Linked DNA regions of Homo sapiens: region 2 is linked to region 1. Evidence: fine-mapped QTL for protein levels in blood plasma. Region 1 holds a variant in brackets. A gene starts in the other region. All regions are shown on their forward strands.

The links. A credible set is the group of variants that fine-mapping cannot tell apart. PIP is the posterior inclusion probability: the model's chance that the variant is causal. The UK Biobank Pharma Proteomics Project read protein levels with antibody pairs (Olink). The fine-mapping took linkage between variants from a reference panel, not from the people measured, so its PIPs are less certain.
Region 2: PTX3 starts here. The variant in region 1 is the best candidate, but not a certain one, in a credible set for the plasma level of the PTX3 protein (UK Biobank, PIP 0.52).

What each region holds. Positions count from the first base shown.
Region 1 is chr10:7,730,616-7,733,476 of GRCh38, forward strand. It overlaps ITIH2 (inter-alpha-trypsin inhibitor heavy chain 2), which reads left to right. Exons shown (of 21, transcript NM_002216.3): 13 at 1,196-1,381; 14 at 1,723-1,862. Among named protein-coding and RNA genes, the nearest start is that of ITIH2, 29 kb to the left of the region's middle. The variant C/G (reference allele first, on the strand shown) is at 1,780.
Region 2 is chr3:157,435,513-157,438,387 of GRCh38, forward strand. PTX3 (pentraxin 3) reads left to right here and starts at 1,338. Exons shown (of 3, transcript NM_002852.4): 1 at 1,338-1,551; 2 at 2,001-2,402. The coding sequence starts at 1,422. All of the region lies in intron 4 of VEPH1 (ventricular zone expressed PH domain containing 1), which reads right to left.

The DNA of each region.
Region 1 (2,861 bases):
TTAAGGCCAGCTTGGGCAACATAGTGAGATCCATCTGTTCAACAGATAATTTTTTTAATTAAAATACATATATTGAAAAGACACAAACTACTTGTTTGTTTTGATTAAATAGATGAGAAAATGATGTAGGGAAAGAACATGTTTTTCCCTGCTCTTTGTCAGTACCAGGCATCGTATTTAAATTTGGGAACAAGTAAGAGATAAGATTCTGATTTGGGGACTATTAACCCAGCTGACTTTTGTAAAAATTTAATTATTACTATTATTTTTTGAGACAGAGTCTTGCTTTGTCACCCAGGCTGGGTGACAAGTACGTTCAATGGCAGTGCAATGGTGTGGTGCAGTGGTTCAGGAGTGCAGTGCTGCGATCTCGGCTCACTGCAACCTCCGCCTCCTGGGTTCAGGCGATTCTCGCACCTCAGTCTCCTGAGTAGCCAGGATTACAGGCATGTGCCACCAGGCCCGGCTAATTTTTGTATTTTTAGAAGAGACAGGGTTTACCATGTTGGCGAGGCTGGTCTCAAACTCCTGAACTCAGGTGATCCGCCTGCCTTGGCCTCCCAAAGTGCTGGGATTACAGGTCAAGCCACCATGCCCGACCTCCTGCTGACTTTTATCATAAGTTTGTCCAAGAGTTTTTCACGCTGACCGTAACAGAAAGGGAAAAAAATGCCAGGCTCTTAAACCAAAGGTAATGTTCTCAACAAGTCTTTGTCTTCTCTCTGTTTTTAATCTGATAATTACGAGCATTTTCCCTTGTCCCAAACGTCCTGTGTGAATAAATTAAGAGGTATCTGCTGATTCTTTGAAGAATCTCAGAGTAAAATGTTTTAGATCAGCTGGGCGTAATCCCTGTAATCCCAGCACTTTGGGAGGCCCAGGCAGGCAGATCACAAGACAGAAGTTCAAGACCAGCCTGGCCAAGATGGTGAAAACCCGTCTCTACTAAAAATACAAAAATTAGCCGGGCTTGGTGGCGGGTGCCCGTAATCCCAGCTACTTGTGGGGCTGAGGTGGGATAATTGCTTGAACCCAGGAGCCGGAGATTGCAGTGAGACGAGATCCCACCACTGCACTCCAGCCTGGGCAACAGAGTGAGACATCGTCTCAAAATAAATAAATAAATAAAATAAAATGCTTTAGATCTACAAAGCAGTAGGAACATAATTTCTCTCTCTCTCTCTGTGAATTGTAGAAATTCTACAACCAGGTCTCCACTCCATTGCTCCGGAATGTTCAGTTCAACTATCCCCATACATCAGTCACGGACGTCACTCAAAACAATTTCCATAACTACTTTGGAGGCTCAGAGATTGTGGTGGCAGGAAAATTTGACCCTGCTAAATTGGATCAAATAGAGAGCGTTATCACGGCGACTTCGGTACTTCCACTTATCCATTTATTCTATCTACTAACTGACCCCCTAGATACAGTCCCTCTTGAATGTCAGCTCTGCCTGCCTGGAATCATGGGTGTAGAACAGAAGCAATCAGTGATGGAGAAGGCATGAGAATATCTCTGCCATCTTCCCAGCTATTCCATAAATCCTGACCTTTTCACCCAAGCCCAATCCCAAGCACAGGAATGCATTTCCTTCCTCCGTAGGCTTTGCCTTCCATTTCTTTTTTATTCCCATTCATTCGCAGCAGGTACTAAAAATGTGAATCAATGAACTATAATTCTGTTACCCAGTGTCTCTCAACTGAACCTTCCATCATCTAGGCTAACACGCAGTTAGTCTTGGAGACCCTGGCCCAGATGGACGACTTGCAGGATTTT[C/G]TATCGAAAGACAAGCATGCAGATCCCGATTTCACCAGGAAACTGTGGGCCTATCTAACCATCAACCAACTGCTAGCTGAACGGTAAGAAGAGAAGAGTACCCACACCACGAGATCTGCAAAACTGAAATGTCCACCGTGAATATATGAAGTCATACACAAAAAGAGTTTGGAAGCAAGAAAGACAGCACATTAGCACAGGCTTGGATTATTACCTTCCACTAGTTCTGAACACTTCAGAGAAAGCTGGGTTCACTCTTTTTCTTCTTTATTGAGGTATAACATACAGTAAAGTATGCAAAATGCATTAATTTTTTAATTTTTATTTTATTTATTTATTTTTATTTTTTTTGAGGCAGAGTCTCGCTCTGTCTCCCAGGCTGGAGTGCAGTGACGCCATCTCAGCTCACTGCAAGCTCCGCCTCCCGGGTTCACACCATTCTCCTGCCTCAGCCTCCTGAGTAGCTGGGATTACTGGTGCCCACCACCACGCCCAGCTAATTTTTTTGTATTTTAGTAGAGACGGGGTTTCACCATGTTAGCCAGGATGGTCTCGGTCTCCTGACCTCGTGATCCACCCGAGTGGGCCTCCCAAAGTACTGGGATTACAGGCATGAGCCACCGCACCCGGCCAAAATGCATTAATTTTAAGTGCACCATTCAATGGATTTTTATATCTATCATCCGTGTAATCACCACCCAGATCCAGATGTAGGTTCCCTTGTTCTCCCTCAACACCCACCCCCCTCCTCCACTGTAACCACTCTTTCAATGTCTGTGATCATCAGTTTTGCCTGATCCTAAATTTCACATAATCATGCAATCTGTATTCCTCTGTTCCTGGCTTCTTTCACTCAATATGATGTTGGTGAGATTCATCCATGTTGCTTCATGTATCAGGCATGTATTTGCATTTACTGTCTCGATCTCCTGACCTCATGACCCGCCTGCCTCGGCTTCCTAATGTGCTGGGATTACAGGCATGAGCCACTGCACCCAGCCCTGCATTTACTCTTGAAAATGGCTTCTTGTCCAAAGAGAAATTGATGATTATTAACGATTATGGTGTTCCCTAAGGAAGGG
Region 2 (2,875 bases), not on the chromosome of region 1:
AACCCTGTGAGGGTCCTGGCTTTCATGAGGATCTCCCTTCTAACTCTCCACCTTTGGCCTAAGCTTTGCTTCCACATGGTCATCAACATTTGGTGGTTATAGAACTAATAACCCCTATCTCACTTCACTCCTATGCCAGAGGGGCCCTAGCATCAGCTCATGGGATTGTTGTTTTTGCTTTCCTCTCTATCTTTGGCTCCGGGATTTTCCCCTTACTTTAATGGGAGCTCATCTGTACCTTTTAAGTTTTTATTAATATCATGTGAACACAGACCTGTATATATTGTTAGAAGCAGAAATCTCTAAGTTTACTTTTAAAACATGATCCTTGCCTCGAAACCTTGTAGAATAATATAATGTCCACATAATACCAAGTTATGAAAAGAAACATACCTAAATAACTAAATAAGTATATTCCTTTTTTCCCCCAGCTTTTTTTCCCCATTCTAGGTTTACCCAGTTGTACTGTGTTGTTTGTCATAGGCCGGGTGAGGTGGCTCACGTCTGTAATCCTAGCAATTTGGGAGGCGAAGGCGGGTGGATCGCCTGAGGTCAGGAGTTCGAGACCAGCCTGGCTAACATGGTGAAACCCTGTCTCTACTAAAAATACAAAAATTAACTGGGTGTGGTGGCGGGTGCCTGTAATTCCAGCTACTTGGGAAGCTGAGGTAGGAGAATCGCTTGAACCCAGGATGCGGAGGTTGCAGTGAGCCGAGATCACACCATTGCACTCCAGCCTGGGCAACAAGAGCGAAATTCAGTCTCAAAAAAAAAAATTATCTATAAAAGTATAGGTGCAACTCCTCAAGTATTAAAGACAAGATAGCTCGGATTGGACTTGACTTTCAGAGCCATAACTATTCTTAATATGTTGGTTTATCTTGGAATCAGACCATTTTCAGTTTCAACCTGTAAAACAGTGTACAAAGGAAACATGGAAAGTTTTCTATATATAAAGGGTTGTGAAATAATAACAGCTCACAGAAAATGCTGAAATGATGATTTGCTTCAGTACCCTCTGAAATTTCTCCCCTACCACCCCTCCTTCATCCCCATTGCTATCAATTCAAATTACAACAGCTAATTCTCAGGAGAACAGTAGAAGCCCAGTTTCTCTCCTCTTTCCCCTCTGACCCTCCTCCAATTAATCTGACTGCAGCGTAAACCTTTGCGGTTTAATATTGTGCAACTTCCACATTTCCCTCGCTCTCCCACCCAGCCCCCTCCCCCACCAAATTCAGGGGAACTCCCGTTACCGCAGTGCCACCAGCATTACTCATTCATCCCCATTCAGGCTTTCCTCAGCATTTATTAAGGACTCTCTGCTCCAGCCTCTCACTCTCACTCTCCTCCGCTCAAACTCAGCTCACTTGAGAGTCTCCTCCCGCCAGCTGTGGAAAGAACTTTGCGTCTCTCCAGCAATGCATCTCCTTGCGATTCTGTTTTGTGCTCTCTGGTCTGCAGTGTTGGCCGAGAACTCGGATGATTATGATCTCATGTATGTGAATTTGGACAACGAAATAGACAATGGACTCCATCCCACTGAGGACCGTAAGTTCACTTTAACTGTTTCTCTGCTAACCCTGACTACATATCCACCTCTTGGTCTAAATAACACACATATACTTTGTGGCCAGTGAGACAAGTTAAAAATTTATAGCTTGTTATGCAAAAGTGAGAAGCACTTGAAGAAAGATGGAGGTTTCAAAGTTATTTCTGTAACGTACATAATGGGTTGAATCATATCAAATCGTCAATATTTGACTGTTTTGAGCTACATAACCGGCGATTTCATAGGGTACAACTTAATCTATACCTGAATGAATGATTTCTGTCGTTTCTGAGACATTTACATGCTGTTTTTCGGAGGTGTCCTTAAAGGGAAGGGGAATGCCAGGAACGGGCTGCAACTTGGCACCACCGAGGGAGGTCAGCTTTTACAAAGCACATCCAAGGCAGGCCTGGGCGGGCTGCTAACGTGTGTGTATCCCGTACTCTAGCCACGCCGTGCGCCTGCGGTCAGGAGCACTCGGAATGGGACAAGCTCTTCATCATGCTGGAGAACTCGCAGATGAGAGAGCGCATGCTGCTGCAAGCCACGGACGACGTCCTGCGGGGCGAGCTGCAGAGGCTGCGGGAGGAGCTGGGCCGGCTCGCGGAAAGCCTGGCGAGGCCGTGCGCGCCGGGGGCTCCCGCAGAGGCCAGGCTGACCAGTGCTCTGGACGAGCTGCTGCAGGCGACCCGCGACGCGGGCCGCAGGCTGGCGCGTATGGAGGGCGCGGAGGCGCAGCGCCCAGAGGAGGCGGGGCGCGCCCTGGCCGCGGTGCTAGAGGAGCTGCGGCAGACGCGAGCCGACCTGCACGCGGTGCAGGGCTGGGCTGCCCGGAGCTGGCTGCCGGCAGGTAAGGAGGCAAGCGGGGCCGGGACCTCCCACTGCGGCTTTGTTCCGGGAGCGCGCGTAACGGCAAGCCAAGCCAGGCAACCTTCTAGGGGAAGCTTTCATGGGAAGCGCGCGCGCGCGCGCGCACACACACACACACACACACACACACACACACACCCCTATTTCTGCATGCGCGGTCACAGAGCTCAGGCACACCATACAAGGCGGGAAAATTGGCTTTAAAAAAGTATTCCTCAGTCCTAAGGAGCCCTAAAGAGAGTTGTGGAGGTAACCATCACAGTCTTGAAATAGACGTCTAGGGCCCCTTACACCCGATCCGACTAAGCGCTGCAGGAGTCCACTGGCCCGTTATAACCGTGATCCCTCTTGCCGCCCAGCTTCCCTCCGTTAGGGATTTCCACGTCTTCTAATTTTATCCTGCCTCTGTCTTTAGAGGAGCTCTGGTTTCCCGCACTATTTCAGGGCCCAGGC